Linked DNA regions of Homo sapiens. The protein of the gene in region 1 interacts with the protein of each later gene in a biochemical or structural test. Each region holds a gene or a part of one and is shown on either strand. Other genes may lie near its edges.

Region 1 (8,479 bases):
AGATTCCAAGGCAGAAGTGAAACTGATGGCAGCACTGCTTTCATATTTAGCATATAATACTATAGTGGCATTAATAATTCAGCAGATACAGAAATTTTTTTTTCCATTCCTGATTTTGTTGATTCAGAGTGGTAGAAGCTTTGTAAAATATAAATTCTGATTCTTTTTCAACTTTGTCTAATTTAAATTTCCCTGTCTTCTGCTGAGTATAAAATAAATGGGTCTAGGTTTGTGAATTTGCTTTTTTAAAATTAAAAAATAACCTGCTGAAACTATTCAGAAATATACCTCAATTAGGGCATTTTTTTAAAAAAGAATGTGTGAACATGTTTAAAATTAACCTTTACCATAATTAAGCTTGGTAGAAATAGAAATTATTGATAATGATAACTCATAAAATTAAGCTTATTAAATAATATTACTTGGGACAAGTACTATGCTTCATTAACTTTAACATTTTTCTTCTTTTCCTTTCTTTGGCTCTTTATTGGACAGTGAGTTTTTACTGTGAGAGATGCTTAGGAAGAGCATTATAATTTTTTGTTTTACTCTAAAGCTCATCCATGTATTTTATTTTGAATGGCTACTGTGTGCTACATACCAGAAGAAACTGGTTTCTTTCCATCTGAGATTTTATCTGGCTTCTTATAAGCTGGTAGATCTAGGAAATGCTATACTTCTTAATATTTAGCAGTTTTTATCTCCACTTTTACAAAATTTAAGAATATTTTAAAGATTAGTAATTTATAATTTTATGAATTTACTTCTTTTAATATTCTATAATTTTCAGATCAAGTTATTAGTCAAGATAAATATACTCAATCCATTTTGAATGCTTTTCCAGATTATGCTTTCTTCATTTAAAGGTTCATGTTTATTTAAGGGTATCATAAATATTTAGTAGACTGAGATCTATAAACTGATATGTATCACTGACCTAACAAATATATATTGGGAATCAACTTTGTTCCTATGAGAGATCTGTATCTATAATAATACTTATTTAGTTTATACATAATTAAAACCTTTATTGTGATTTAGGAATGAATCAAGATATATTTTCTAGAGTGTATAAACCAGAAGTTGCCTAGGAAATGGCTGCAATTTAAAGTTCTTAAAATAATGCAACTCCTCATATGTGTGTTTTCAATCTTGCTATATATTTTAAGAGAGCTGATATTTTCCCTTATGTTTACTTTGAGCAATTAGTAATTATAAATATCCATTTATAAGTATAAATTTATCTGTGTTTCTAAATTGTACTTAGTGTTCTGATTTCTGGATTTGATGTCTAGTGTATACTATTTTCTGTAATAGATATAATTTAAAACACAATAATAAGAACAGCATTAGAATAGAAATCAGTACCATTCTTCTAGTTTTCTTAGAACATCACATACCAACAGTCAAGTGCTTTTATTGAAATACAGTTAGTAGCAATTAGCTTAAATTTTGGCTTTTCATAGATTGAAACTGTTAAAGCCCAGTTGATCCCAATGTTTTTGGATAGTGGTAGTATTTTTAGTGCCACGAGAGAGTCACCTATTTTATGTAAAAGTTTGCTTATTGAATTACCAGATATATGACATCATAGTGTAGTAATACTGGATTAGTAATTCATAATAAAAACTTTGTCCCAGGTTTCACAAAGACCACCAGAATAACTGAATAAATAAGCTTAAGTCTCTGCTCCAGTTTTTCCTTTTTTGAATTGGGTTACCTGCCCCAATTCCATGTTCTAATGATTCAGTTCTCTTATTTTTAAATTTTAATAATGAAAAAAATTAATGATTACTGTAATTAAAAATGTCAGGTTTTCTTTCTAAAATCGATAAGCCTATTTATAACAATACTTTATTCAGACATTAAAAAAATTAAAAGCCACTCTTTATTGCACATTTACAATATATTTGACCATCTCCTACTTAAATGAATCACTAAATTACATTTTGGACCATGCATTGCTCTTTTAGACTACTAAAAGTCGGTAAATTTTTCATGTCTTCTGGTGATTAATCCTTCAATCTGGAAAGTGTTTATAGCTAGCTAAAGTGTTTATTGGTAGGGATTAGTCTCATGATTTGTATTTAGTATTCTGTTTATAATAATTTAAAATGTTGTACTAATTAGATCTGTACAAAAAGAATAGTCAGTTTTCTTGGTACTAGAAAGGGATATAAGTAGTGACAATTAGAAACCAAAACTGAATATACCCTGCTAGATTAGTTCCCAGAGAATATGGTTTATCTTTAATACATATAATTTGCCTGAGAATAAGTGGTGATTGACTAAATATTTTATCAGTAAAGATAATATCTACCTAGATTATCATTTCTTTTTGTATTTTTACTATTTTTAAGTGGAGAGAAAACTTCAGTTTTTTACAATCAAAATAAGTATTAAAGTGATATTATAAAATCAGAGCCCCAAATCCTAACCCAAGAACAACTATGAAATTAATAGTGCATTGTTGCTAAGTGCTGGGTAGGTTAGCTCTTGAATAAAGTTTAGTTTGTTACATGAAAAACATTAATAAATAAATTCATTATTCTCAGGCTTTCTATAAACATCAACAATTTGTATAATGCAACATTAAAAAAACTTCAAAGCACATTTAAAAATGTTTAAGCAATTGTTATTTACATCATTTATGATTGGTCAATTGTAGTAAGGTATGAAATTCCTAAAACGGAAAGAAAAAATAGCAAAGAAAGCAGAAAACAATGAATCCAATGACCCAGTTCACTGAATAAATATATATGATCACCATATCCATGTCAAACCACCATCCACGGCTATCATCCTCAAAGTGCAGGTAATCCATCCTGTGTGCACCGTGTGGGAACTGCCTTCTTGTAACTGGAGCTGCATGTCTGCGGAAACCTAGAAGATGTATGAACATATTAAAGCCCATTAAATTCAAGCTAGTGCTCAGAAAAGAAGCTGTACACAAGTACAGTTAAACAAAGCATATCCTGATTTCACTGAGCGGAGTTATGTTGTATTCCTGACAGTTTTTTCTTTTTTTTTTATTATTATTATACTTTAAGTTTTAGGGTACATGTGCACAATGTGCAGGTTAGTTACATATGTATACATGTGCCATGCTAGTGTGCTGCACCTATTAACTCATCATTTAGCATTAGGTATGTCTCCCAATGCTATCCCTTCCCACTCGCCCCACCCCACAACAGTCCCCAGAGTGTGATGTTCCCCTTCCTGTGTCCATGTGTTCTCACTGTTCGATTCCCATCTATAAGTGAGAACATGCGGTGTTTGGTTTTTTGTCCTTGCGAGAGTTTACTGAGAATGATGATTTCCTATTTCATCCATGTCCCCACAAAGGACATGAACTCATCATTTTTTATGGCTGCATAGTATTCCATGGTGTATATGTGCCACATTTTCTTAATCCAATCTATCATTGTTGGACATTTGGGTTGGTTCCAAGTCTTTGCTATTGTGAATAGTGCCGCAATAAACATACGTGTGCACGTGTCTTTATAGCAGCATGATTTATAGTTCTTTGGGTATATACCCAGTAATGGGATGGCTGGGTCAAATGGTATTTCTAGTTCCAGATCCCTGAGGACTCGCCACACTGACTTCCACAATGGTTGAACTAGTTTACAGTCCCACCAACAGTGTAAAAGTGTTCCTATTTCTCCACATCCTCTCCAGCACCTGTTGTTTCCTGACTTTTTAATGACTGCCATTCTAACTGGTGTGAGATGGTATCTCATTGTGGTTTTGATTTGCATTTCTCTGATGGCCAGTGATGATGAGCATTTTTTCATGTGTCTTTTGGCTGCATAAATGTCTTCTTTTGAGAATTGTCTGTTCATATCCTTTGCCCATTTTTGATGGGGTTGTTTGTTTTTTTCTTGTAAATTTGTTTGAGTCCATTGTAGATTCTGGATATTAGCCCTTTGTCAGATGAGTAGCCTCTTCTAGTTCAGTGCATTAAAGGCAGGGTAGCAAAGAACACAGGATATGAAGTCAGGAGATTTGCCTAGGTCTGCCACTTGGCTGGGGCAAGTCATTTAACTCTTTTGGTCATGAATTTCTCATCTATACTATCTGATTTCTTCAAAAATTTGTGGGGATCAAATGTAATTATTTTCAAGAGAATATTTTCTAAATTTATCATGTTTTATTTTTACAACTGCTTTTATAACTTCTGATCACCAACTTAACCTTGTATCTTATACTTTGAGAATTTCATTCAGTTTAGTTCTTTGAGCAAAGTTCTAAGAAGAATATCTTATTTTAGCATCGAATAAACTAGACAGACATAATGATACTCCTTTAAAGAAATTTAGCTTTAATTTCCATAGAGTTCAAAGCATGGGGATTTGTTGGTACAGAAAAAGCAAATCTTGAAAGTCAACTATAGTCTACTTATTACTAAATGAATATGACATTTCTGAGAAATATTACATCATGAAATACAATTTTCTTTTGTGTATTTACATGCTAATTAGAGCTTGAGAAAAAACCTGCTCAATAGCAACTTGTTTTTTTTGGTTGACCAATATATAAACTCAGTCATTTAAAAAACAAAATTCAATTCTCTGAAGACTGATAACCTATTAATCTTTTGCTTTTTACTTATCTGCTTTCTACTTTAAGTATTTCTGTGTTTATTCATGTTAGGGAACAGGGACAGCATAATAAACTAGGCAGAAAAATGTAATTCTGGTACTCACTAGCAACTATGGTGATAAAAGTTCTGTGAAGCTCTAGCCTGAAGCAAACTCTGGTTCACTCATTATAACAATTGAGTAATGTTAAATATTCTCTAGGTCAGGCTGCTTATTCTGATGGCAAGGTTGCATTTACCTGGGTATTAGTATGCTCATTTAAAGTCAAATCTCTTTAATCAAGAACTATCCTATTTTTTATGTATTAAGTTTATTTGGAAATTATATTTACTTACGTAGGTTCAAAACATGAAATTTAAAAAGATAAACATGAAATAAGTGATATTTAAACAGAATTTGTAGAGCTACATTTCAAATAGGTTTTTAAATAATTTCTAATTGATCTTGGCTGACTTTCTATCATATCTGATTTGATTTAAAAACTTTTTTTACTGCTACACAATATTTGTACATTTTAATGGAGTATATGTAATATTTTATTGTTTATCTTTGTAGTCTGGTGGTTTTCTATAGTGGTATCCTGTGTATTTTTTCTCTTGTATGTTTGTTCTACCATTTGGGTTTTACTTTCATGTGTTTTCATGATATCATTCTTTTGCTTCCAGGTATAGGACTCCCCTAAGCATTTCCTACAGAGCCAGTCTGGTGGTGATGAATTCCATCAGCATTTCCTTGTCTGGAAAAGGCATTATTTATCCTTCAATTCTGAAGGAAAACTTTGTCAGGTATAATATCCTTGGCTGCCATTTTTTTCTTCAGCACTTTGAATATGTCATTCTATTCTCTGGCCTGTAAGGTTTCTACTAAGAAATCCAATGTTTTCTGATTGGGGTTCCCTTGTAAGTGACTAGATACTTTTCCTGTTCTAAAAATTCTATCTTTGACTCTTGATAGTTTGGCCATATGTACCATGGAGGAAACCTTTTTGCAGTATGTCTATTTGGGGATTTCTGAGCTTCCTGTATCTTGATATGTAAATAAATTTCTAGCCTTGCAAAGTTCTCATCTATTATTTCATTAAATATGTTTCCTATCCCTTTCGTTTTCACTTCATCTCTGGGACACCAAAAATTTGAATATTTGATCACTTTATGGTGTCCCATATGTCACACAGGCTTTGTTCATCCTTTTAAAATTCTTTTTTTCTTTATTTTTGTCTGACTGGGTTATTTCAAGAGACCTGTCTTAAAGTTCTGACATTTTTTCTTCTGCTTTATCTAAACTGTTACTGAAGTGCTTAAATATATTTTGTATTTCATTTACTGAAAGAGATGGGGAGAGAAGCAACTTGGAAAACATATTACAGGAGATCATCCACGAGAACTCCTCCAACCTAGCTATAGAGGCCAACATTCAAATCCAGCGAATACAAAATATTTAGTAAGAAGGTTATCCCCAAGGCACATAATCATAACATTCTCCAGGGTGGAAATGAAATAAAAAGTGTTAAAGGCAGCTAGAGAGAAAGACCACCTACAAAGTGTAGTCCATCAGACTAACAGTGGACCTCTCAGCAGAAACCTTACAAGCCAGAAGAGATTGGGGGTCTATATTCAACATTCTTAAAAGAAATTCAACCACGAATTTCATATATGGCCAAACTAAACTTCATAAGCAAAGGAGAAATAATATCCTTTTCAGACAAACAAATACTGAGGGAATTTGTCACCACTATACCAGCCTTATAAGATCTCCTGAAAGATGCATTAAATATGGAAAGGAAAGACTGTTATCACCCACTGCAAAAACTCTAAGTTCACAGACCAGTGACACTATAAAGCAACCATAAAAACAGGTTGGCATAATAAACAACTAACAACATAACAGGATCAAATCCACATATATCAATATTAACCTTGAATGTAAATATGCTAAATACCAGTTAAAAAAAGGCACAGCTTGGCAAGCTGTATAAAGAACCAAGATCCAATGGTATGCTGTCTTCAAGAGACTCATCTTACATGCAATGACACCTATAAGCTCAAAATAAAGGGATGGAGAAAAATCTATCAAGCAAATGGAAAGCATAAAAAAGCAGGGGTTGCAATCATAGTTTCACAAAGACTTTAAACCAACAAAGATAAAAAAAGACAAAGAGGGGCATTACATAACGGTAAAGAGTTCAATTCCATAAGAATACTTAACCTAAATATATATGCACCCAACACAAGAGCACCCAGATTCATAAAGCAAGCTCTTAGAGACCTTCAAAGAGACACAGACTCCCTCACACTAATAGTGGGAGCCATCAACACCCCACTGAAAGTACTAGATCACTGAGGAGGGAAATTAACAAAGATATTCGGGACCTGAACTTGACACTTGACCAAATGGACAGAACTCTCAACCCCCAAACAACAGAATATACATTCTTGTCATTGCCACATGGCATATACTCTAAAATTGACCACACAATTGAACATAAAACAGTTCCCAGAAAATTAAAACTGAAATCAAAACATCCACACCCCTGGACCACAGTGCAATAAAAACAGAATCCAATAAGAAGAGGTCCCAAAACTATATATTTACATGGAAATTAAACAACCTGCTTCTGAATGACTTTTGGGCAAATAATGAAATTAAGGCAAAAATCAAGAAGCTCTTTGAAACTAATGAGAAGAGTTAAAAGGGAAACTTACAGCACTAAACACCCACATCAAAAAGTTAGAAAGATCTGAAATTAACAGCCTAACATTACAACTAGAGAAGCAAGAGCAAACCAACCCCAAAGCTAGAAGACAAGAAATAATCAATATCAAAGCTGAACTGAAGGAGACAGACACAAAAAGCATTCAAAAGATCAACAAAACCAAAAGCTGTTTTTTTTTTTGAAAAAATTAAGACAGGCCACTAGCTAGACTAGTAAATAATAAAAGAGAAGATCCAAGTAAACAATCAGAAACAACAAAGGGGATATTACACCACTGACTCCACAGAAATACAAGTAACCATTAGAGAATATTACGGACACTTGTATGCATACAAACTAGAAAATCTACAACAAATGGACAAACTCCTGGACACATATACCCTCCCAAGACTGAACCAGAAAGAAATTGAATCCCTAAAGAAAACAATAATGACCTCTGAAATTGAATCAGTAATAGCCTATCAACCAAAAAAATTCCAGGACCAGACTGATTCACAGCCAAATTCTGTAAGATATACAAAGAATGCTGGTACCATTCCCACTGAAACTATTCCAAAATAATTGAGGAGAGACTCCTTCCCAACGCATTCTATGAGGCCAACATCATCCTGATAGCAAAGCCTTGCAGAGACACAAGAACAAAAAAATAAAACTTCAGGCCAATGTCCTTGACAAACATCGATGCAAAAATCCACAACATAATACTGGCAAATTGAATTTATCAGCACATCAAAAAGCGAGTCCACCACAAACAAGTAGGCTTTATCCCTGGGATTCAAGTGTAGTTCAATGTATGTGGATCAATAAATGTGATTTGTCACATAAACAGAACTAAAGACAATAACCATCATCTCAATAGATGCAGAAAAGGCTTTCAATAAAATTCAACATTGTTTCATGTTAACTCTCAACCAACTAGGCATTGAAGGAATACACCTCAATAATAAGGGCCATCTATGACAACACCACAGCCAACATCATACTGAATCGGCAAAAGCTGGAAGCATTCCCCTTGAAAAACATAAGACAAGGATGCCCTCTGTAACCACTCTTATTTGACAAGCATTGGAAGTCCTGGACAGAGCAATCAGGCAAGAGAAAGAAAGAAAGAGCATCCAAATAGGAAGAGAGGAAGTCAAACTATCCCTGTTTGCAGACAACA
Region 2 (6,860 bases), on another chromosome or scaffold:
ACCGCCTTCCCGCCCGACAGTCCTGCTCATTTATTTCGTATTTTACTTTCTTCCAGGCTGACGTCCATCTCCTCAAATTTCTCAGGAATGTGGGGAAGCTCCTAGCCCTGCCTGCCTTTCTAGAGGGCTTCTTGGATTTGCAGCTTCTAACAAGTTGCTCTCGCCACGGAGAAGCTGTTATTATGACAAAATATTTGGGGCATTATCAAAATCACACAGGCTGCTGGGCTGCTGTCGGTTTCTCGCCAGGGCCAGTAAGCAATTACATTTGGAGTTGCTACGTGTTGTTTGGGGGCCGGGCTGTGGAGAGTGACTGAGCCAGTATTTTTCATCCAAAATTCTGCAAATTGAATTAACCACAATTCTAGTCTCACCTCCCGTCTTTAAAAAAATAAGTTGAAGAAAAGGTAAATATTAGAGATAAGGCAGCATCTAGTGACTGCGGAGAGGCACAAGCTGGTGGGCGAGGGTTGGGGGAGTCAGCAAAGCCTTTCAAAACCTCCCCGTTTAATTTTCTGGCTGTCTCTGCATCCTGTTGCCAGAATTCCAAATGCTTGGAGTCATTTAGAGGTGCGAGAACTCAAACGTCGTTCCACTTGGAAAGGGGACCGTTTAACGTTAAATTCCATTAGCACCTAAATTGTTTCTTAAAGACATCCGCTCAGACACAGGACTCGAAAGCGAGCATTTCATGCAAATAAATTTCTCAAATTTTAAACCTTGTTAAAAGCTTGTCTCGCACCTCGGCTCCCTCCCTTCCCGGAAGAGAACAATAGGCCGCTGGCGCATCCCCACTTCGGAGTAAATATTGACGGGGGAAGTTGCTAAAACATTTGGCTTTCTTTTAGGAAATCGTCTGGCACGATTTTGGCTGAGACCTGGTCATAGATGAATAATCTATGAGGCGGGAGGCGCGTTCTTTTGCGGCTCTCTCTTCTCACGCGATCCCCCCGCGGGGCCGCGCTGCCTGGGGCTCTAGCTGACCTGGGGCTCTAGCTGACCTGGGTCCAAGTTGGGAATCGCAAACTCTGTGGTGCCCATTAGAGAATTTCACAAACTGCTGCGAAACCACAGTAAAGCCCCCGCGACCCACCCCGAGACGGGCTTTAAAAACACTTTAAAAATGAGAAACGCATTACAGCTTCGGCTCACACCAGACTCATTTCATGGGAAACAGTCCCGGGAAGGGCGTTTGGACCCCGAGTAAAAGAAGTGGGAAAACACACAAACCACTCAGACAGACATACACTCCGAGCAGAAAAGCACATTCAGACAAGCTGGCAAAATCCTCTCTAGGCTCGCTTCCCGGGCACCGAATTAGCGAGCAGTTTTATTTTGTGCTTTCTACTTAAAACGGAAATTATTAACCGGGGCTGAGCAAACGAAGCAATTGCATGACCCAAGCATACATTTGATGTGAGGCTAATCATTCAAAACTCGATTTCCGCACATGGAAAAACCTAGCCCAATAATATTGTCATCGTCCAACAGAAACAAGCTGCTGGCTCTTTCGTACACGCAAAAACACCTCCCATCCCAGGTCCCCGGCTGGCGGTCTGCGCCCAGCGTCGGCACCCACAGCCTGAGTCTCAGCCTGTGCGTGTCTCCCCTCCGCGCCTGGTCCCTGTCCCAGCCCGCGGTTACCTGTGTGGGTCCTTTTGTGGATCTTGAGGTTCTCGGAGCGCGCGAAGACTTTGCCACAGCCCGGGAAGGGGCAGGGGAAGGGTTTCTCGCCTGTGTGCACGCGGATGTGGTTGACCAGTTTGTATTTGGCCTTGAAGGGCTTGCCCTCGCGCGGACACTCCTCCCAGAAGCAGACGTGGTTGCTCTGCTCCGGGCCGCCGACGTGCTCCACCGAGACGTGTGTCACCAGCTCGTGCATGGTGCTGAAAGTTTTGTTGCAGCTCTTCTTGGGATTGCTCAGTTGCTCGGGGTCGATCCACTTGCAGATTAGCTCCTGCTTGATGCACTGCTGCCGCATATAGCGGAAAAAGGCACCGGGGTGGTGGTGGTGGTGGTGGTGGTGGTGGGCCGCGGCTGCTGCCATGTTCATACCCATGTTCATATTCATGGGGCCGTACTGGTTGTGGAGTTGCGCCGCCGAGTAGGGGTCGGTCCGCGGGCTGGCCACCTGGCGGTATTGCTCCGAGCGCCCGAACACCTCGCCGGGCAGCCCGAGGCGCATCTGCCCGTTGAGCACATTCTGCGAGCCGTGCGGCCCGTGCTGCTCTGGCAGGCCCGGGAAGAGGAGGTGGCCCTGCGCGTCCGAGTGCGCGTGGTGCAGGCCGCCCGCGCCCGGCCCGAACAGCCCGTGCTGCCCGCCGCCCGGCGCCGAGTCCCCGAAGCCGCGGCTGCGGAACAGGAAGTCCCGGGTGGAGTTGAAGGGCGGCCCAGAGTAGGAGCCAACGTGCGCGGCGTGGGGCCCGAGCGCTGCGGCCGCAGCGGCAGCCGCAGCGGAGCCGGGGTAGGCGCCGGGGCCCTGCGACGTGAACGCCGAGCTCTGGCCCGGGGACAGCTCGTGCGCGCCCGGGTTGAGCTTGAAGGCTCCCATGTGCGCGGCGGCGGAGTCAACGAAGCCGTTCTGCGCCGCCGCCAGGCTCAGTTCACGGTCCTGCATCTCGGCGGCAGCCGCCGCCGCCGCCGCGGCGGAGTGGTGATGGTGGCGCGCGAAGCTGCCCACCCCGATGGCCGGGAACTGCGGACCCGCGTCCAGGAGCATGGCCAGCGCGCCCGCCCGCCCCTGCGAGCCCTGCGCCTCCGCGCCGCCTCGACTCCCGCTCCCGATCCGCGCGGTGCGTCCGGCGGCCACCGGGCTCCAGGCGCAGGCGGCGGTGGTGGCGGCCACTTCAGCCCTGGGAGCCGCTCTCCTGCGCCCGCCGCCTCCGCCGCCGCCTGGATCTGCCTCGGGCGGCCGGGCGCGTAGCGAAGGCGCGGAGAGGAAGAGGAGGAGGAGGCGGCGGCGCGGGAGGAGGAGGAGGAGGTGGAGGAGGAGAAGAGTCCAAAGCCAGGCGGAGAACCAAAGTGTATTAAAGGAGCTGCGGCGGGGGCGGGCGGGCAGGGCAGGGGAGGGCGGGCGGGAGGAGGGAGCCGGAGGGAGGTGTGGGGAGCCGAGAGGAGAGGGGGGCTACCGGGGGGCGAGCGCCGCGCCGCAGCCCCCACCCCTGCGCGCACCCGCGCGCGCACGCACACACTCACTCGCACGCCCAGCGGACCCGGAGCCCGGCCGCACCGAGCAGCGCCGGTAGAATGCAGTCACAACCGCGGCGGCCGTGCGCACGCCAGGCAGACGGGCGAGGAGAGGACCGAGGCGAGCTCCGCGCTCGGCACCCGGGGCCAGCGCACCAGCGGCTCCACCTGACCGCGGCGGGGGCGCCGGGGCGGCAGGCGGAGTCCAGGCGTCCTCTCCGCGGCGCTCTGCGGCGACAGCTCCCTCCCCCGCGGCCCTACTCGCGCCGCCCCGCGCGCGGCGGTTATTGTTCGGAGCCGCGGCCGCAGTGTTTAGCCCTCCTCGGCCTCGGCGCTTGGCATTGGCTGCGCCTCGCGTAGTAAACTTGCAGTGGCCACGAATTTCCCCAGATGAAGGCAGCAGCCGCGCCGCTCCCCCTTTCTTTAAGTTGTGCCGGAGGAGGAGGCGGGGGAGTAGGGGGGAGGGGGATGTGGGAGGGGAGAAAGCGAGCAGGGGGAGGGGAGGAGGGGGAGGCTGGGCTGAAAAACAATAACAACAATAAAAAAGTGATCTCTCGCTCGCCTCCTCCCTCCCGCCGGTCGGGCCTGGGCGCTGGGCCCGGAACTAGTGACCGCGCCGCGTGGACCCAGCGCAGTCCGCGACCCGAGGGAGTGTGAGGCCCAGGCGGGCTCCCAGGTCTCGGCTGCGGTGGGCTGCGTTCGCCACCGCCTCCGTTGATTTCGATGGGCGCCGCCAACGCTGCAGCGGCAGCCTTTTATTTTTTATTTTTTGTCTCCTCCTTTTCCTCTCCCCTCCCCCCGCACCCCCTAGTCTCCCGCCCCGGCCTCCCTCCCTCCCTCCAGCTCGAGGCCGGGCCCCCCCGGTCAAACCGCCCCTTTAACGGCGGCTCCCGCCCCGCCCGCCCTCCCGGCGCCGCGATTGGCCGCCGCGGCCTAGTCAGTCCCGCGCCCCCGCCCCGCTGCCGGGCCCGCCCCTCAGTCCTCGCGCTCCCTGAGCTGCTGCCGGCTCAGGCAGCCGCCGAACGTGCCCGTGGGCCCGGCCTGCCATCCTGCCGCGCTTCTCCCGAGACCTCGGCGCCGCGGCTTCTAGTCCTGGCCGACCGCGGCGCTCCCGGGAGCCGGGCGTCCAGCGTGGCTCGGACGCGGGCCCGGGCCGCGGGGTCAGGGCGCCCTCAGCCGGGTCAGGAATGGGAGGCAACCCAGCGCTCCAGTCTTTCTGCGTAGGCCACCGACTTCCCCGGGATCTGAGCAGCTCCCAGCGGACACCGAAAACCCCGGGGACGCCTGGCCCGAGCACTCCAGGCCGCTCGAGAGGTGGCTAACAGCTGGGTCGCCTGGCAGGAGGCTCTGCGCGCGGGGACATTTCAGGCCCGGGGCCTCGCCGGGAGCGCGCCACAAGGAGCGGCGGGGGGCTGGTCTGCTGCCCGCTTGGCACGCTCCCTACTTTCACCCCGCCTTTGTAAACTTGCTCTGTGGCATTGAAACCACAGGTGCAGGACCGTGGGCACAGAGAAAGCCAGGCATGCCCCTTCTTCCCACCCTCCGGACGCCCACCCAGACACCGCCTTCCCCGCCCCCCGCGGCGTCCCCGTCCGCCCCTCGGCGCGCTGAGCTCCCCACCCGCCGCTTGCGTCCTGCTCCGTTTACAGCAGTAAACACTGGGCAGCGGCCCCTGCGTGGAAGGGGGTTGTTCGGAAGTCGTTTAAAGACAGTGTCACCCTCAGGGTAAATGCCCAGAAGCCGGGCCGCGCATCCTTGGGCTGAGAAGTGTGGGAACGCCCGAGACCAAGCGAGACTCAGGCCGGAGTTTGGCTGCGGGTCAGGCTCAGGGTCTCGGGAGAAGAAGCCGTCAGACACGGCAGGGCTTAAACCTTCTAGAAAGCATATATATCCATCCACTCCTTCTCCAGGAGCAGGGAGTACCACCCGGGCGGTGGCCCAGCGGCGAGGCCGCTCCCGGCGCCGCGCCTGGCTGACCGCTGCGGACGTTTCCTGTCCCGCCGCCCAAATCTCGCGCTCCCGAGGTAACTAGAGAGGGAACGGAGGGCCCAGAGGCTGCGGAGGTGTGAAGGGACAGCCTGAGGCCAGCGCCTCGGGCGTGTTCTCCTGGCTGGCCTGGAGAACTGCTTTTATTTATAAATCTCTAGGAGTTGAAATAAAATTAAACGAAGAGAAAATAATAAATTTTTCAGAATTATGTTCTGAAATGAAATAAACAAAAACGCGGGAAGAATCCTCTAGCTCACTATGGCTGGCAGAACCCGGGCTCTCTTGCGCCGGCTCAGGCAGCCTCTCCCGGCTTAAGCGAGTCTCTGCAGGTTGGCGCTGGCCGCAGCCCCTTGCATAAGGAGCCCTGTGCCCTCCCTCCGTCCCATTCTTCCCTGTCCTGGGGGTGGGGTGGGGGTGCAAGAAGGAGGCAGGCTGTGGCATCCTGTCTGAAAGCAAGGCAGTTTGCCTGGAAGATGGAGATTCTCACCTTCCCTGAAAGGAGGAAACGTTCCCATTTCCACACCCCTCTCTCTGTGCATAAAAGGGGGCGGAGGGCACTAGCCAAACTGGCCCCCTAGACCTAAAGGGACCTGAGACATAGACGCAGAGAGAAAAGAGAACATCTTTGGCAGAAAGGCTGCCCTGCCACGTTGAATCCATTAAAAATTGCCTAGTGCAATTTTTGTACTACACACTTGTTTGCTTTATTCATCAATTTTTATGGGAATGGGAGGCGAGCACGAGAGGAGAGTATTTGGAAGGGCTTACTCCAAAAATATTTCCGAAGGAAAATGTTTTCTTGGAGATTGGTTATGAGAATAGCAGACCTGCACATGCAGAGACCTCACTTCCCTTCCTTCTTTCAGGCCATCAGACTTCGAAGTTTTCCTCCTTTCCCACTGTCTTACCCCCTCCCCAGTCCTCCCTCCCTCTCCTCTTTGACCCATTCTCTCTTTCGCTTTGATTTCGCCTTTGCTGCTCCCGCGTTTGGGGATCGCGCGGCTGGGCGCTCGCTCGCGCCGGATTCCAGGGGCCGCGCGCGGCCGGGCGGTGGGGCGGACGCCTTAATTCCCGCCGGAGACCCTACGGGTTGGGCGCTCCTGGCTATTCTTTCCCGGCTCTAGTTCTCCTCTCTCTGCAGGGCACAGAAGAGCTGAGCCAAGTTCAAAGTCACGTCGCCGTCCCTTCTCAGAAGTGCTTTATTTCTCTACAAACCGCAAAACCCCTTTACTTCATGACTTTTTTTTTTTAAGGAAGGAAAGTGAAGAGAGAGCTAGAGAGACCAAGGGGAAAAAAAAAAGCATGCAAAGGCTTTCAGAGTTACTGCCTTAAAAGTAGACTCGGGTTCCTTGGCTGAAGGAAAAAAGCGGCCAAGCGGCGTTATGCACAGTGTGAGTGAATTCAGTTTTTCAACAGGTTTCTGGAAGGGCCCGTCTGTGGCAGTGTCAGGGCCGCAGGACCCACAACTGTCTCCATCCGGCAAACAAGTCCCCTCTTTGTAAATTTCCCAAAACTATGCTTCCGAAATCTTACGGAGGCTGCGTGCGACTGGGCGGCAGGCCGGGGCTTGAGCGGATCCAGCTCAGGGCCGCGGGGGCCAGTGTTCATTTCTCGGCAAGTAGAGGGAATGGCAGCGCGATGGAGAATTGGGGTTGTCTTCAAAAACCAGAAAATCCCGCCAAACA
Region 3 (7,000 bases), on another chromosome or scaffold:
GTCATCTGGAGGTGCAGATCTTAGCGGACCAATATGGCAATGCTATCTCTTTGTTTGGTCGTGATTGCTCTGTACAACGCAGGCATCAGAAGATTATTGAAGAAGCACCTGCTACTATTGCTACTCCAGCAGTATTTGAACACATGGAACAGGTACATATATTAAAAGGCTTACTTTATGTTTTCTTACATAGAACATTTTTCATTCAGTTCATGTACCAATCTGAGAACAATGGCATTTTAAGCAACGATTCTGAATAATTAATAAAATTATATCCTTTTCTTAGAGAAAAAAAATTCTACTGTTCTCCCACTAAGAGAATTGTCAAGGAACATGTCAAGCTTCTAAAAGTAGTTAACGCTTTCTAAAAAAAATCAGCGTACCATTTCAGGATACAGGGATAAAGAAGAGAAATGTTTTGGAATTTTTAATCTTATGATTGATTTTTTTAAGAGGCTCATAATCAGGTAGTTTTATTTGCTGGGTTGAGTATCATCAAGTCTTCAGCTGAATTTAATCAACTCTATTATCGTTTTTGGAAAGTCCTCTAAATATCTTCAGAGTTCACACATTCTATCTTTTTGTATAGAAAGTAGTTTCTCAAAGTCATGAGCGATGCCTTCGGAATAACTATAGTTTAGAGGCCTGAACATAGTCTTTTCTGGAGTCCTAACCCAGTCTCTACATCAAAATAGATTCTTCAAAATATATTTCATGTGTGTTAGAGGTCTATTTCCTATGTTGTGTATATATTAGGATGTACTCTTGAACTGCTGTAATAAAGATGCCTTCAAAATACAGTGGCTTGGCCGGGCATGGTGGCTCTTGCCTGTAATCCTAGCACTTTGGGAGGCTAAGGCGGACAGATCACTTGAGCCCTGGAATTCGAGACCGGCCTGGGCAATATGGTGAAACCCTATCTCTACTAAAAATACAAAAATTAGCTGAGTGTCATGGCACACGTCTGTACTCTCAGCTGCTTGGGAGGCTGAGGTGGGAGGATCACTTGACACTGGGAGGTCAAAGCTGCAGTGAGCCTTGATCATGCTACTGCACTCCAACCTGGGTGACAGAGCAAGACCCCATCTCAAAACAAATAAATAAATAAGCAAAATACGGTGGCTTAAACAAGGTGTAAGTTTCTATTTCTCTTTCATCATAGTTCAGAGATGAGCTGTTACCAGAAACAGGTTTATTGCTCACCTGTTGCCTGTTTTTGTAAATAAAATTTTGTTGGAACACAATGATGCTTATTTATTTATGTGTTATTTATGGCTGCTTTATCACTACAATGGTAGAATTGAATAGTTGTGACAGAGGCTATATGGCCCACAAAATTGAAAATAATTACTATCTGGCTCTTTACCAAAAAAGTTTGCCAAACTTTGCTCTTGGACATTGTCATCTTCATGATTAAGCTAACTCACACAAGATTATGTTCACATTGTGGCCTGTGGGAGGAAGAGACAGGGGATGTGGAGGGCAAGCATATGGAAGCATGATCTTGAAGTCACATACATCACTTCTGCTCACATTCCACTGGACAAAATTCAGTTACACAATTATACCTAGCACAAAGGATGTTAGGAATTGTGATCACTAACTGGGTGACCATGTGCTCAGCAAAAATTTCGATTTTATTCCTAAAATGATGAAGTAGAGAAAAGTCACTGGAGGGCATTTCATAATCTGTGCCTCAGTCTGTTCCTCTGGCTACCTATTATCCCTTTATCCTTTTTCCTACTTTCAGAGCACACATAGCCTTTGTCCAAGGAAGACAACCTGAAGCCCCATCCAGTTACTAGTAACTGGATGGGTTATTACTGGAGGTGATTCCGGATCTCTATATGATGTATATTCTTCTCCATTAGATATGTATTGTGGCTTTTCATGGGCCAGTGACTCAAAATACAAGTTATTTACCCAGTATTATATCCCCTGCCTTCACCATACACCCATATACAATGATGGAATAGGAACAGGATAACTCTCATTTGGAAAAATGAAAAATACATAGCAATCGTTGGTCCATAGCAGTTATCAAATCCTCCTTTTTAGGTAGGAATTGCAATGATTCCCTGCTATATAATAGAATACTACCTCAGTTAGACCTGGCTGTCCCTGGTTCTGCTACTGCACACTCCAGAGAAGTGCAATAAGGGAGTAAATCCCTTGTTCATTGTCCTTCAAGACACCTGACATTGTTTTCTGGGAAGTTCTTCCTCATTCAGTTTTCTCTGTGAGTTGGGCTTTGGAGACTATGCCTTCTTTGGCAGAACTTTCACAACCCACTTCCTGCTGGTGCAGGATTGAGGGCACAAATATCCCAATCATCAGTCGCAGGCTTTTGAAGGCCAGGTTTGTGGTTTGTTTAGAAATACAATTCCTTCAAATACTTAACTAAGCTTCTGGGCTATTTGCTTGCAATCAGCTTTGGGTTGGATTAATCATACTCATAGATTTCTTCTAGATATAGAAACTTTTCTTCTATTATTTACTGGCTTCTGTGCTTAGCCTATCTCTCTTGCCTTGATTTAATATTGGCTATCTTGGGGCCAGCTGAAACTAAAGCAGCACGTTTGATCTTTGACACTGAGTTGCTTCAGGGTGATAATCTCATTTTCTGTTTGGGGGGATACAAAAGAAGTTGGCTTTTTCGACACTCTGACCCTTTCAGACCATCTTTTTTAAGGTTTAGTTGGTGTGTGGTCAGTATCCCAAGTTATTGTAGGAAACAGTTTACCAAATGTTGTGTTATCCCAACAAGGAGATTATCACCTTTCCAGCCTGCAGTATCTGTTTCTCTGCTACCCACTACCCTTTTGCTAAGCTAGCATCTCATATTTTAATATTTTTAAACAGCAACATTCTACCTGCACTTAATAATTCCTGTATCGATTAGGATACAGGTTAAACTGCTATAACAAAAAGGTCCAAAAAACACAGCGGACCCCCCCAAAAATAGAAGTTTATTTTTCTCTCCCATCCTAGTCTGAGGTGAGCTTTTCAGGGCTGGTGGAAGTGTTTTATTCCACGAGACCATCTTGGGATTCAGGTTCATTCTTTCTTTTCTTTTTCTTTCTTTTCTTTTCCTTTCTTTTCTTGGTGTTCTTAGTGTGTTCTCATTTGCATGATTGAAGTTGGCTTATACTATCATGACTATGTTCCAATGAATAAGAAGGAAAAAGCCAGGAATAGAGAATGAGACATTTCCTTTTCAAAATATGACTTAGGGCTGGGTGCTGTGGCTCACGCCTATAATCCCAGCACTTTAGGAGGCTGAGGTGGGCGGATCACCTGAGATCAAGAGTTCGAGACCAGCCTGGCCAACATGATGAAAACCCATCTCTACTAAAGATATAAAAATTAGCCTGACATGGTGGCATGTGCCTGTGATCCCAGCTACTCAGGAGGCTGAGGTAGGAGAATCACTTGAATCCGAGAGGCGGAGGTTACAGTGAGCCGAGATTGCGCCACTGTGCTCCATCCTGGGTGGGTGACAAAGCGAGACTCCATCTCCAAAAAAAAAAAAAAAAAAAATATATATATATATATATATATATATATATATATATATATATATATATGACTTGGGAGTTATGCATATCACTTACCAATGCTGGTGTCCTGTTTGTCAAAACTTAGCCACTAACCAGGCCAGGCATGGTGGCTCACGCCTGTAATCCCAGCACTTTGGTAGGCCAAGGCGAGTAGATCACTTGAGGTCAGGAGTTTGAGACCAGGCTGGCCAACATGGGGAAACCCCATCTCTACCAAAAATACAAAAATTAGCCAGGCATGGTGGCGCATGCCTGTAATCTCAGCTACTTGGGGGGCTGAGGCAGGAGAATCACTTGAACCCGGGAGGCAGAGTTTGCAGTGAGCCACGAGATTGTGCCACTGGACTCCAGCCCAGGAGACAGAGTGAGACTCTGTCTCAAAAAAAAAAAAAAAAATCTAGTCTCTAACTAGTTAGCTATGTTTCTAGGAAGAAGAGGAGCATATTGGAAATACTGGAAACTGGACAAGAGTCTGTCCCCATGTTTTTTTGTCTGCATGCATTTATGTCTGGTGGGGTGAGGTTGCTTTTGATGCAAAGTGAAAAATGCTCTTTTCTCCCGATTTTTCATTGAGTTTTTCATCCTTGTCCAGGGATATTGTATAATAATCAGAAATGTGCTCTCATGTGGCTAAAAGCTTTTGATGGCTCTTATACACACTGAACAGTTGAGTCAGTGAGAGGCTGTAGTGGTCTAGCAGTTGGATAAGGTGAGATACTTATGTTTGCTTATCTCTCTTCTTTGAGTGTGCGGTGAAACTTGCCAAAATGGTGGGTTATGTGAGTGCTGGGACTGTGGAATACCTGTACAGCCAGGATGGCAGCTTCTACTTTCTGGAATTGAATCCTCGGCTGCAGGTAGAGCACCCTTGTACAGAGATGGTGGCTGATGTCAATCTCCCTGCAGCACAGCTCCAGGTGAGTCTCCCTGATCTGGGTTGCAGAGCCTAGAAAAGTCAGAGAGGCCTGAAAAATGGGTTTAACCAGTGTGTGATAAGAGAAAAGCACCTCCTATCTGAGTCACACCTAATGGTCATTTCTCTTTCACCCTGTATGTGTTATGCATGTGTGGTTTGGTTTTCCTGATGTAGTACAGACATAGGAATGTTATTTTTTCTAGCCAGACACATCTGATATAATGTGTCATGTTTTAGAAATAAATGTTAATAATGTATGCTTTATTCAATTATTTAGCTATAGTAAACTTCACAACTTTGTATTATAATTATTCCCTACTCATTTTTGTTTTTTTACTAGTGTTCTTTATTGAAATAATTCTGCATCAGAGATTAGTGGTTGAAGTTTTTCCTTACAAGAGTGTGGTAGCACACATATATTTTTATAATTTGTAAAGTGCTTGCTGTCAATATTATTGTCTTCTCTCAGCCCAGGAAACAAATATTATGGAAAGCAGTAATAGTTAATGATAAGGCTTGATATTATTTTTATCTAACATTTGCCCACATCGAGAACACCTTCTGGGTTCCTATTAAAGACTAAAGATTTACTTACTTCCTCCAGTGGTTTGCAGGGATGGAAGAGATAATTATGACACAATTAAGACTTTCTAGCTGTCTGTTTTTGGATGGCTATTAACATTTACTCCTCTGTTGGATATTTTCATTCTTATTACGTGATGGAGAAATGACAACAGGGGAACTGGTGTCTGTTGCATTAGGAATGTGGGGACTTCTTTAGAAGTGGAGAATATTCTAACTACTTATCTGTAGTGATATATTGTATTTCAAGCAACTTAGAGTTGATGATTGTAGAATACAGGTTATAAAAATAGAATGTTTTAGGGAGTGGCTCCAAAAATAAAAATATTTTAGGTTATCTGATAGCCTCTACACTTTAAGGGAAGTAACTGAAAAATTAAAGATGTGTGTTTTATTACCTTTCAGATTGCCATGGGGATTCCTCTATATAGAATCAAGGATATCCGTATGATGTATGGGGTATCTCCCTGGGGTGATTCTCCCATTGATTTTGAAGATTCTGCACACGTTCCTTGTCCAAGGGGCCATGTTATTGCTGCTCGGATCACTAGTGAAAATCCAGATGAGGTAACCCATCACTTAAAAGGTTTATACCTCCTTTTAATGAACTTTAATGTTAAGATAGTATCTGAAAGTATACTTCTGAAATATCTTGGGACTTCCTCTGGAGTGGGAAACATAGAGGTTTCTCAGAGCAGATAAGTAAATGGTTGTTGCTTCATTGGTTACTTAATCCCACTTAAGTCACTGTAGAGTCTTCAGTGGGTCTGTGGCACTGGGTCTTGGCCTTTATCATTTTTGTGTGTCTTCTCTGCTTCTGTGTGTGATTAACAGAGAACTTAAACAATGAATATATAAATCTTCTCTTCCTTCGAAACATAATATGGTCTCTCATTCTTTATTCTCTAACAGGGTTTTAAGCCCAGCTCAGGAACAGTTCAGGAGCTAAATTTCCGCAGCAATAAGAATGTTTGGGGATATTTCAGTGTTGCTGCTGCAGGGGGACTTCATGAATTTGCTGATTCTCAGTTTGGTCACTGCTTTTCTTGGGGAGAAAACAGAGAAGAGGCAATTTCGTGAGTATAATAGCATTTGATTGCATTTTACAAAATAAATTTGTGCTAATCTTAAGTGAAGGTGTGAGCATGGGAATAGGAATCATCTGCTGTCAAAGTAATAATATGAACAACCTTTTTGAAGAAATTTTGAATATCTTTAATTACACTTGCATTCATGTTGTATTAAATTATGCAGTGCTTGGCAGATGTTTTTCTGTTTGTTGTTCTGAGCCTTTTGAAGTATTTTTCCTTTCAAATATTTTTGATAAATGTATAAAATTGATTGCTTTAAAGGTATCTTATTTTTCCACAGGAACAGTATTGTTATTGAGGGGAGGTAGATTCTTGGCCAAGAACTAGGTATCAAATAAATCATAGACTTTTATTTTATTTTTTTCTTGTGAGAAGACTTAAAATCTATTAGCAATTTTCAAGTACACAATCTATTGTTATGAGCCATAGTCACCATGATGTACTCTTATAGTTATTTAAAATAATAAAATTATACTGCTCATATTATGAAAAGGACATAAAGAAACTGTCTACATTGCTAATACAAGAGACCTTAGCATGCTGTATATAACAGCTTATGCAAATATAACTGCTATATCATAAATGTTAGATAATATTCTGTTAATCATAAACAATGAATATTAAATTAACAGCACTTTTGCTTGCCTAAAACATAGGGCTGAAGGAGGTAATTTTAACAGCTTAGATCTTTTGGAATATCTATCTAAAATTGAAACTTGAACTAGTTCTTTTCTGTTTTTTAATGGTTTATTGCCTTGTATCAAACATTTAATACCATTCCCTTTACCTTTGTACTGTACATGGAGTAGGTAATTAATAAGTGTTTATTAGTATTAATTACTAATAAATAG

The links.
Region 2: the proteins of RNF180 (region 1) and ZIC2 form a complex in vitro, tested with the Homo sapiens proteins (one study listed by BioGRID).
Region 3: of the proteins of RNF180 (region 1) and ACACA, one has a biochemical effect on the other in vitro, tested with the Homo sapiens proteins (one study listed by BioGRID).

The regions. Positions count from the first base shown.
Region 1 is NC_000005.10:64,364,019-64,372,497, reverse strand, and holds part of RNF180 (E3 ubiquitin-protein ligase RNF180), read right to left. Parts: intron 2,884-8,479; coding exon 2,684-2,883; 3' UTR 1-2,683.
Region 2 is NC_000013.11:99,977,924-99,984,783, reverse strand, and holds the start of ZIC2 (zinc finger protein ZIC 2), read right to left. Parts: upstream 3,001-6,860; 5' UTR 2,720-3,000; coding exon 1,645-2,719; intron 1-1,644. UniProt on the Homo sapiens protein: Acts as a transcriptional activator or repressor. Plays important roles in the early stage of organogenesis of the CNS.
Region 3 is NC_000017.11:37,256,837-37,263,836, reverse strand, and holds part of ACACA (acetyl-CoA carboxylase 1), read left to right. Parts: coding exon 1-152; intron 153-4,306; coding exon 4,307-4,477; intron 4,478-5,463; coding exon 5,464-5,625; intron 5,626-5,970; coding exon 5,971-6,134; intron 6,135-7,000. UniProt on the Homo sapiens protein: Cytosolic enzyme that catalyzes the carboxylation of acetyl-CoA to malonyl-CoA, the first and rate-limiting step of de novo fatty acid biosynthesis.